Linked DNA regions of Homo sapiens. The gene in region 3 interacts genetically with the main gene of each other region. Each region holds a gene or a part of one and is shown on either strand. Other genes may lie near its edges.

The links.
Region 1: changes in KDM6B (region 3) and KDM3A together harm fitness more than expected from each alone (negative genetic interaction), as found in Homo sapiens cells (one large-scale study listed by BioGRID).
Region 2: changes in KDM6B (region 3) and PRMT7 together harm fitness more than expected from each alone (negative genetic interaction), as found in Homo sapiens cells (one large-scale study listed by BioGRID).

The regions. Positions count from the first base shown.
Region 1 is NC_000002.12:86,489,655-86,493,225, reverse strand, and holds the end of KDM3A (lysine-specific demethylase 3A), read right to left. Parts: coding exon 3,567-3,571; intron 2,346-3,566; coding exon 2,169-2,345; intron 2,086-2,168; coding exon 1,951-2,085; intron 1,188-1,950; coding exon 1,107-1,187; 3' UTR 510-1,106; downstream 1-509. UniProt on the Homo sapiens protein: Histone demethylase that specifically demethylates 'Lys-9' of histone H3, thereby playing a central role in histone code.
Region 2 is NC_000016.10:68,317,378-68,321,025, reverse strand, and holds part of PRMT7 (protein arginine N-methyltransferase 7), read right to left. Parts: intron 1-3,648. UniProt on the Homo sapiens protein: Arginine methyltransferase that can both catalyze the formation of omega-N monomethylarginine (MMA) and symmetrical dimethylarginine (sDMA), with a preference for the formation of MMA.
Region 3 is NC_000017.11:7,844,157-7,847,804, reverse strand, and holds part of KDM6B (lysine-specific demethylase 6B), read right to left. Parts: intron 2,929-3,648; coding exon of another isoform or gene 2,866-2,928; 5' UTR 2,785-2,865; intron 2,492-2,784; 5' UTR 2,352-2,491; coding exon of another isoform or gene 2,277-2,351; intron 2,256-2,276; 5' UTR 2,251-2,255; coding exon 2,114-2,250; intron 1,934-2,113; coding exon 1,835-1,933; intron 1,728-1,834; coding exon 1,508-1,727; intron 1,406-1,507; coding exon 1,313-1,405; intron 1,227-1,312; coding exon 1,065-1,226; intron 987-1,064; coding exon 789-986; intron 701-788; coding exon 353-700; intron 260-352; coding exon 1-259. Other genes in the region: translation initiation factor IF-2, read left to right, coding at 2,277-2,351, 2,866-2,928. UniProt on the Homo sapiens protein: Histone demethylase that specifically demethylates 'Lys-27' of histone H3, thereby playing a central role in histone code. Demethylates trimethylated and dimethylated H3 'Lys-27'.

The DNA.
Region 1 (3,571 bases), on a different chromosome or scaffold from region 3:
TGTCTATGTACTATCTGATTTCTATGTTTAATTCCTTTTTTTAAAGAAATTAAATGAAAGAGTGGCCTAGGAGAATCAGTGGGCTAAAGAAAGGCGCTTCTTTGTGAATTTTTTTCCTTCACAGAGATGAATATTTTAGGTAGTACTGTCCTAGAACTTATAATTTCATTTTCCTTCATAAACTTAACATTATGAAGGGCCATAAAACAAAGTGTTTCATTACTTACCTTTTTAGAACCATTTAGCCTGGCACTATTTGGTTTCTTGGTTAATTCCTGTTTCTAAATTTAATTAATTGGTGGTGTTTCCTTGACAAAGTGTGACAGGGTTTCTACCTGGCTGAGCAGAAATTTCCATGTTAGCTTTGTAATAATCACTAAGAAAATCACTATAGCATCTGATTTCTTTGCTTTTAAGAAGAGTTCTTGGAGCAATCCATTACACCTGCATTTGAAGAAAGTTGTGTTGAAACCACAATGAGAGGATAATGCCAATAAACTGAGCCAAAATATTATATGAATATTTTAATGCAAAATGCTTAACACTTAAAATTAGCAAAGCGTCATTTAAATTAAAATTCCATTTAACTAAAGATGGTTAACCCCAAGAAATTGTACAGTAGTTGATTTCTGCTATATAATGCCAGTCCTATGCCATACAATAAGAACTGCAACATTAGCTGTCACTTCCTCCATTGCTCTTCTGGACCCTAAGGGATGAGGGAGGGGACTCAGACACAAAACACAACCCAAATAAACTGTGCAGTGATTCCTAATAGTTATAAACCCAATCTAAGTTGTCCAAACAGCTGAAGAATAACTGCAGGTATTGTTCCAGAGCTGATACGAGGTTTTGCTTTTACAGCCTGGTAAAAGTTCTGCACTAGGTGAGAAGTCACAGTTTAAGGATGCATGTTCTGTAAATAGTTACTACATATACACATTTACTGTCTGTAAACACTAGAAATATACATTAGACAGAGTACCCTCACAAGTTGGGTACAGTTTAAAAAAGAAGATGAGGTAACATGAATCTCAAAGTCCACAGGAATCCTGCCTGAAGAGTTTGAACAGCTGCCTGTAATTCATTTCCAATGTGCAGGGAGATTAAGGTTTGCCAAAACTGGATTCACTGGCTTTCAGCATAGCAACTGCATCTTTCACTGCATGGTAGATAACATTCTTCACCTAAAAATAGTAGGAGAAAATATGGGCATTTTACATTTAAATCTAAAACCTGTCACTAAGAATAAGCTTCCTCCTACTAATTTTATTACCTTCTCTCAGAATTTAAAATTCAATATTCGTATGAAATGTCAACATTGCAAAAGGTCCCTGGGCTCCTTCAGACCAGTATTTCACATACATTTTAAACCCATGATTTCAAGAACTCATTTTCCCCCTTTTAGAGGTTTTGATACCACGTAGACCTACTCACAGTGAGTACAGGGAGAGGCAAGTTCCAAGGTACAGCTTTTATCATTTTTCCCTTATTTTCCAAACATGAAATTATGTTACATAATTCATTACTGAAATCCTTTTGAAAATACCACCCCCTCAGACCTCTTTGAGTCTCAGAGATTCAGTTCTGCTCTACCTAAGAGTGATGAGAACACTGCAGCACTGAAGGTTAAGCACTGTGTTCAAGACCCCGACAGGCAGCTGGGCCAAGATCAGAAGTCACATCTATTCATTTTCAGTACTAAGGCCTTTCTCTGTGGGGACAGTCCCTTATAGATTCTAAACAATATCAAATCAAACCAAGGTGAGATTTCCTCTTGTTCCTCCCTCACTTAAGTAGATAGTAGTACTAGATATAAAGCAAGTTCCTCGACTCACTGTGTACTAAGTACGATATGGCCAAGTTCACTGACTCTCTTTATAAGGTGAAGAATGGGCCATGAAGCCATAGCCATAGCCAAAGAATGCTAGGAATTGGTGCTATTTTTACCTGTAATTTATCTTCGTGATTGGTATGAGTCTGTGACAGATATCGGAATTCCTGAGTAAGCCAGAAGCAGTGTTTAACATGCTCTGGAGAAACAAAATCTTCAGCCACTTTGATGCAGCTATATAAGTTATGAACCTGAAAAACACCAAGTAATATATCAGTAACAAACCCAAAAGTTCATGACATAAAGAGATTAAAGAAAAAGTAATGATTCTTGCCTGATGTGGAGCTCCTGCCGGGATAAACACCACATCCCCAAGAAACTGTACAATAGCCCAGCCTTGAACTCCATACTCTTGATGAAGACGTTTTCTTAATGATCGGTCTAAATACCAGCTTTGATCATGAATAGGATCGTGGTCTGCTGGGTTTTCTTGACCTTGCTCTTCTGATACCTAGAATACATTCAAAATATTATGCAACTCAGTAACATGCTAAGGCCCAATAAGCCATTTTTTTCCTCTAAACAGTGTTGGCAGTTCATAAATGTCAGGCCTTCTTCAACTTAAGTGCCCCCATTGGCAGAAGACGACTAGTAGTATCAAAGACTTCAGCTGAATGAACCAACAGAAGAATGACGAAGAAAATGTGATGTCAGTTCCCATAAACCATGACTGACAGGCTCTGCATAAGTTTGTAAATACTGTATTTAAACAATATTTTAGTCTAGATTTTTAAACATAAGTAGGCTCAGTATCCTTATAAATGAACTTGTTTTAAAGTTATTAGAAACCTGCCTTTACTTAATCTGACTTACGAAACAGTCCCAAAGACAGCTGCAGATTAGACTTGTTTATCCTTGATCCAGTAACTGGTAAAGCAGAGACTCAGAGTGACAATATCAAAAGAACAATATGGTGACCAAGCCGGTTTTCTGGAAGAGCCAAATGATCCTTAGCCAGAAACACTTTGATTCAAACAAATGCTTGTTAAAGACATACTTGGGGCCAGCTAACAGGTTACGAATGTTCATATCCAAGACTCATGAATGACTGAAGAATATCAGCCAAAGACACCTGAGTTGCAACCGGCAGCCTCAGTGCCAAACAATTTTAAAACTGAACACGACTCATCTTTCTAGTTGCCTAGAATTTCCACACATAGCCCTTGCTGAAAAAAAAACCTGCCAACTACAGGGGAAACCTAGAATCTTCCAAATCCCTGCAACCCTTGCTAGTAACAAGTAGGACCACTTGCTACATGACAGTGGACAAAACCAAACTTAGCAACTCACTCAGAACATGGTCACTCAGGGCCAAGGATACATGAACGTCTGAAGTGCTCAGATTCTCAAGGCAATAAAAACAGATATATGCTGGGAGATGATCAGATGAACTAACTTCTAACTTGAAAGCAGAGAACAAAAATCTCTAAATGCACTCTAACACAAAACACAGACATAAAAGACAAGGCCTGCTTTTTTTAGAAGTGTAACCCTAATCATTTAGAATCCTTGTTCCTTAGCAACCACCTTCAGCCTATTCAATCTGACAGGTACAGATTTAACTTTTCAGGTTGTGACAATTCCCCTAGCCAAGCCAGTCAGTTCACCACATGTAGTAACATAATATTGCTATTCCTTATGCCTCTGTTCACACATGCCATAAGCAGCACACCTTTT
Region 2 (3,648 bases), on a different chromosome or scaffold from region 3:
AAGTGCTGGGATTACAGGTGTGAGCTACTGCGCCTGGCCTATTTTTTTGTTTATTTTTAGAAACAGGGTCTCGTTATGTCACCCAGGCTGTAGTGCAGTGGCTATGAACAGCCTCAATCATTGGGCACTGCAGCCTTGAACTCCTTAGCTCAAGAGATCCTCTTGCCTCAGCAGAACTACAATACAAGCATCCGTCGCTGCACCTGGCCACTTTATTTTAATAGAGTTTCAAGCTGTTATTCTCTAGTGCTGCAGAAAAAAGTCTCAGAGAAAGATGTTCTCAGACCTAAAAATGCTCCAGTAGTTAGCTGCTGGGAACAGGCCCCCAAATCTGGCCAAAAACAGGCCCCAAAACTGGTCATAAACAAATCTCTGCAGCACTGTGACATGCTCGTTGATGGCTATGATGCCCACACTGAAGGTCGTGGGTTTACTGGAATGAGGGCAAGGAATACCTGGCCCACCCAGGGCGGCTTTCGCTTAAGGCGTTCCTGAACCACAAACAATAGCATGAGTGATCTGTGCCTTAAGGACATGTTCCTGCTGCAAATAACTAGCCAGAGCCCATCCCTTTGTTTCCCGTTTTAATCTATAATCTATAGGAACAATGCTTATCACTGGCTTGCTGTCAATAAATATGTAGGTAAAGTTCTGTTCGTGGCTGTCAGCTCTGAAGGCTGTCAGCCCCCCAATTCCCACTCTGCACTCTATATTTCTGTGTGTGTGTCTTTAATTCCTCTAGCGCCACTGGGTTAGGGTCTCCACGACCGAGCTGGTCTCGGCAGTTAGCCCTGTCACAGTAATTCCACAGCCACTAGCATCTTGATCTTGCTATACACTACACATTTTCCTCCTCAGGAAAAACTCAGACTCAATCTGCCTAATACTTGACCTAACCTGGCCTACATCTCTGCCTGGAGATAACCACTGATGCGGTATTAGGGAGAGCAGCCGGGGAAAGAGAAGCACTCACATACACCCACTGTATATGTGACAGGTACCCCACTGGGCACGTTCACTTAACATCATCAGGGAAAACTAAAGAGTTCACCAATACCGTAGTAAAGGGAGGAGAATCACTTCTCCATATTTCCTACTGCAGTAATTCACACACTGAAAACCCTCAGGCGGGGTCGGGATGAGCACCCAGAACTAGGCAGGCCCTGCCACGCTTTCTGGGAATTCAAGGGGACAGCTAAGGAGCTCACATTAAAACAGAGGCCCTCCAGCCTTGGGTCAACACTAGAATCACTAGAAAGCTTACCTGAAATGCAGAGTCCCAGAACACACACACACACACACACACACACACACTCTCACTCTTATTGAGAAGGCTGGGCTAATGTGCTCCAGGCAATTGTGCCACAGGTGGTCCACATTCCACACTTTGAAGAGCGGTGCACTGAAAGAAGGGGGTTCTTTTTTTTTTTTTTTTAATGGCACATCAAGGTTTTATATCTGAAGCCAGCTATGGATGCTTAGCTGAAATGTAGTCCTTTCTACCTCTGCTCACTATTTAAAAGGCATCTCACTCACCACCTTCCTGGCCTCTTCACACTTACTGCCCACCACTCCACTGACATCACTCTCGGTAACCACCACCAGCTCACTCCTGCAGCTGATGTCAGTCATCAGTATCTGGGACTTCCCAGTGCCTCTGACCTTGCTAGACACACTCCCTCTTTCTTCCTTTCCATGCTGGCTATCTCCCTTGCCCTTCTTTGCCTCCTCAGCTATTCCGGGATTCCTTCTTCAGCCCTCTACCTTTCACATTCCACACCCCCTTGAGAGACTGCAACCTCTCCCAGTTTCAGTTCCAACAACTACAAATTCTGTCTCCAGACCCAAAATTCTATCTGCCATTGGCATCTCTATGTGGATGTCCAAACCTAAACGCCTAATCTCCATCGTGTTCCCCTCCCCACACCACCCATTCCTCCCTTGCAGGCCCCATCCACTTTGTCATTCTAACCAGAAGTCTTGGTGCTTCTTGAATCTTCTCTCTCCCTCCATCATATCCAGTGAGTTACCAAACTCAAGTTCCCCCGAGCTGTCTCCTCTGGGACTATGCAGCTCTGGGACTACAATATCCCCAAATGCTCTCCTCTCCACACCGCTCTCAGTGAGTGTTCCAAAATGCAATCCAATCCTCTTTCTCTCCTGTTTAATATATCACTCAGAAAATAACGTCCAGGCCTGACACTGTGGCTCACACCTGTAATCCCAGCACTTTGGGAGGCAGAGGCAGGTGGATCACCTGAGGTCAGAAGTTCAAGACCAGCCTGGCCAACAGGTGAAACCAAGTCTCTACTAAAAACACAAATATTAGCCAGGTGTGGTGGCAGATGCCTGTAATCCCAGTTACCTAAGAGGCTGAGGCAAGAGAATCCCTTGAACCTGGGAGGCAGAGATTGCAGTGAGCCGAGACTGCGCCACTGCACTCCAGCCAAGGCAACAGAGTAAGACTCCATCTGAACAATAAAACAAGAAAATAATGTCCAAAATGTTTAGAAATATTTTAAGACCTGGGCAGGTGCAGTGGCTCACGCCTGTAATCCCAGCTCTTTGGGAGGCCGAGGCGGGCGGATCACAAGGTCAGGAGATCAAGATCATCCTGGCTAACACGGTGAAACCCCGTCTCTATTAAAAATACAAAAAATTAGCCGGGCGTGGCAGCGGGCACCTGTAGTCCCAGCTACTCAAGAGGCTGAGGCGGGAGAATGGCGTGAACCCAGGAGGCGGAGCTTGCAGTGAGCAGAGATCGTGCCACTGCACTTTAGCCTGGGAAACAGAGCGAGACTCTGTCTCAAAAAAAAAAAAAGAAAAAAAAGTAAATATTTTAAGCCCTAATTCTGCACCAGATACTGTATTACATTTAATCATCAAACAATTCTAAGATAATTGTATTATACTGTGAGATAATGTATTACTATATTGAAGTATATATTATTTTATATTAAGGCTCAGAGAAGTAACTTGGCCAAGAGAGTAAAGAAGTGGCAAAGCTTGGACTTAAACTCATGTTCCTCTTCCTGCATTTTGCTACCACCCTTTACAAAATGACCCCGCGTATGCTTTCGGCAGCCTCTCTTACCATAGTACTTTTGTACCACACTCCAGCTGCACTAAACTGCTAGCTGCTCCCCAGAATAGCCCATCTGTGTGTGTGTGGTTTTTTTTCTTTTTTTTTTTTTGAGACAGAGTTTAGCTCTTGTTGCCCAGGCTGGAATGCAATGGCACGATCTCGGCTCATGGCAACCTCCGCCTCCCAGGTTCAAGTGATTCTCCTGCCTCAGCCTCCCGAGCAGCTGGGATTACAGGCATGCATGCGCCACCACACCTGGCTAATTTTGTATTTTTAGTAGAGACAGGGTTTCTCCATGTTGGTCAGGCTGGTCTCGAACTCCCGACCTCAGGTGATCCGCCCGCCTTGGTCTCCCAAAGTGCTGGGATTACAGGCATGAGCCACTGTGCCCAGCCTGTTTTTGGTCTTTGTTTGTTTGTGAGACAGTGTTTTACTATGTTGAACTCGTGGGCATAAGCAATCCTCCTGCCTTGGCCTCCCAAGTAGCTGGGACTACAGGTGTAGGCCACTGCACCCAGCCACAATCTGGCTCATCTGAAAGCTTACCTGTAATCCCTGCTGCT
Region 3 (3,648 bases):
AGAAGAGCTCTTCTAAGATCTCTCCATCCTCTCGGGCTGCCCGGCAGGCCGGACCCTTCAACCAGGCAGGGGGTGGTGGGGGGCGTAAGAGGCGGGGACAGGGGGGTGGAGGGGGTGAGGAAGGTCCAGGTGGCAGGGATAGGTGGGGAGTGGCAGCGGGAGCCCCCAAGAACGGTTTCCGACTGCTGTGTGCCGAGGGCCCCAGGCGGCCATGGTGAGAGACCTCCAGCGCGGGAGTTTGGTAATGGTCAGCGCCGGGCTGCAAGTGTAGAAGCAGGTGGTAGGAGCATTGCTCGGGCTGCCTCAAGACAAGCTCCACCCATCCCCCCCTCCACCCTCAGTTGTCACTCACAATGCCTGGGTTCGGCTCCACGCCCCGGAGACCAGTGTTGCTGCTGCTGCTACTGCTGCTGCTGGTGGTGGTGCCGGGGAGGCCAGGGGGCCGGGAAGGGGCGTAAGGCACGCAGGCGGTGGTTGCTGCTGGTGAAACGCTGGAGTCCATCCGCGACCTCTGAACTCTGCTCTCTCTAAGGTCACTTCCGGGGGGACGGGTGGCAGGCAGGCAGCCATGGCTCTCTGCTCCTGGGGGGCGGGGGCCTGGGCCTGGGGGAGCAGCCGGGACCAGCCGGTGGCCAGGGGGGTGCGCGGTGTACGCTGGAGCTGGGTATGGATATGGGTGAGGCAGCGAGTGCCGCTGCTCCTATAGGAGATAAACAGGGATGCAGGATGAGGAATAGAGAGCGTGGGACTTGTAGGTGAGAGGTGAAAGGCAACAGGCAGGGGCTCACCTGGCGCTCTGGGGGTGCTGAACCCTTGCGCTCTGGGCCCCAGGCATCTCCATGCAGGGTACTCCACAGCCCTGGCTTGGTTAGCTGAAATGGGGGGCTGGTAGCCAGGCCAGGCAGGGGTGGTGGTGGTGGTGGTGGTGGTGGTGGTGGTGGTGGTAATGGTGGTGGAGGCAGTGGCAGCCCTGGGGGAAGGCCAGTCTAGGAGAGAAGAGAGTGTGAGAATCCCATTCCCAAGTCCTGCCTACTTACTGCCTGCTGGCCCCCCTATACCCACACCTGTTCAGAGTTGCAGCCTCTCCTTCGCTTGCCTCCAGGGCTGAGGCCCTCCTCCCCTGAGGGGCCTGAGAGTGCTGCAGGAGGCACAGGCTGCACCACTGGGGGTTCAGCAGCTCGCTTCACCGGGGGACCTCCCCGCTTGGCTCCATAGTTCCGTTTGTGCTGAGAACAAAAAGAGAGAAGAGAAAATGGCACGGGTGCAGGCACAGCCTGGCTCTCCTCCCTAACCCACCCAGTGCCAGCCTCACCTCAAGGTGTAGCAAGTTCCACACTTGCTCCAGTGGGGGCAGGACCTTGGCTCGGTGCTGGCAGGAGCCAGTATGAAAGTTCCAGAGCTGGGCCTGGGGGTGGGGGGACACGGGGCAGGGGCAGATGTCAGGTGGGGCACTGAGCCAGAAGGCACAATCGTACAATCCCGTCCCCCACGCCCTGCCTTCTCCTACCTGCTGCAGTCGGCCAATGCGGGGCCCCAGCTCAGCGAAGCTTCCTCCGTATCGAAGGGCGCTGTGGTAGCAGCGTGTGGCCTCCTCACTATCGTGCTCTGACTCGTACAGTTGCCCAAGCTGTTCCCAAAGCCCTGGCTGGGCTGGCTCCCGGAGCAATGCCTGCACACAGCCATGCAGGGATTCCAGCTTCCCATGGAGGGGTCTTGGAGTGGGCGCCCTACAGAGCAGAAGGGGTGGGGGTGTGGGTGGGGGTTGGGCTTGAGGGGACTCTTTCAAGGCCCCAGCCTTACCTCCCACTCCCAGAACCTTCAAATATCCACTCACCCTGGAGCATAATATGGTTTGCTGGGGTGCCCAGAACTACTGCCATGTGAAGGGGGTAGGGGAGCAGGAAGCGGGGGCTGCCCAATGCTGGCTGAGCATCTGGAGAGAGAAGGAGTCTGTTATATACGGCAAAAAGGAGCAGTCTTGTCCTACCTAGGCAGGAGGGGGCTGATGCACGGAAGCCCACAGAATGACAGGAACCCATGGAGAATGACACAGATTGAGGGATACAGAGATGGAAAGAGGTGTGCCTGGAGACAGAGGGCCCCAACTTCTCACCTGCCTCCAGGCAGCCATGCGCTACGAGGAGGGGGATGAGGCGGGCAGGAGCTCCAGGCCCCAGCACAGCTCAGGCCCCCAAGGGCAAAGGCTTCCCGTGCAGCGCGGGCCCCTGGAGGGTCCACTGCCCGATGCATCCAGCCTGAGTTGGGGATAAGAAATTATGCTCTTACTGGAGGCAAAACCAGAGCTGCCAGTGTACATCCAGCCAGCTCGGCCCCAGAGTTTCCCTTACCAGGTCAGCAGTGGCCCCAGGAGCCCTGGAGATTGGGCACGGCCCCCTGCCCCAGCTCTCTGGGACGATGGTCCGGCTCCAGCCGCTCTGATAAGAGTGCCCGCTACCCCCAGATGGCTGCCTCAGTCCTTTCACAGCCAATTCTAGAGAGAAGGAAAAGGAGTGAGACGAGCTGGCCAGCACACAGTCAAGGCCCAGGGGCTGGGATGGGCGGACTGTGGCATCCACCAATTTGTCATTTGTGCAAAGGGCCCGGCCTTAGCTTTCCCCAAAGGGAGGCCCGGCCCAACCACTCCCTAGAGGCCCAGGAGTGTGGCTGGGAGTCAGGACGTGTGTGGCAGGGAACCAAAAGGCCGGTCAGAGGGACGGGGTGGCTGCGCTGCCAGGCTTCCAGTCCGGAGCCACTGGGCCGACCCAAAACGCAGCGGCCGCTTACCCGGCCTCCGTGGGAGCGTCCTCACACCGCGTCGGCAAGCTCCAGAGATCTGGCCAATCACAGGACTTCCTCTCTCCCCAGAAAGCCAATCATCACCCGTGTCTCCGCCTCAGTAACAGCCTGGCCGGAACCAATGGGAGCGAGGTGAGCCCGGCAGCGGTGGCCGGGGGAGGAGGGGCGCGGGAGCCGGTCAGACGAGCTCAGCCCGGGGTGACCCCGATGTGACCCCGCGGCTCCCACCTAGGGTCCCCATCTAGGATCCGACACTCCGGCCGTCAGGGCCAGAAGGCAGCCAGGACAAGACGCATGCGGATGAGGCCGGTTAGTCGCATGCTCCGGCCGGCGTGGGGGCCGGCGCTACCCGCAAGCCTCAAGCACCCAGAGCCGCCGGTGGCCACGGCCAGGCTGCTCGAGTAGCCCCACGCCCGGCCACCGTAAGACCGACGGACGACAGACGGATGCAGAACGCAAAAAAGACGTCCCTCCCCTTCCTCACTTCACCTCGCCCAGTGACAGACCTCCCTACCCCGAGCGCCCCTATTAACTGCTTAGGGCTGGCCAGCCACAGCGACTTCCACGGCACCCAAACCCGTCCGCGCCGCTATCGGCGCTCCACCCCCAACGCCTGACCCCGACCCAAACCTTGGTCAAGCCCCCAGTCTCATACCCAGTTCCTCCAGGTCCTCTACTTCCCCTGGCTTTCTGGGTCTTCAATACCGACCGACCCCCAAAATCAGACCCCTTTTAGTCCCCCAACTTCCGAGAAGTCGCGCACCGCGGTCCCGAGTGGCCCCTCTCTCGTGGCTCGCGTATCCTCTCTGCCCTTCCCCGCCGGGGCCACGCGGTTCCCCACGGCCCACGTGG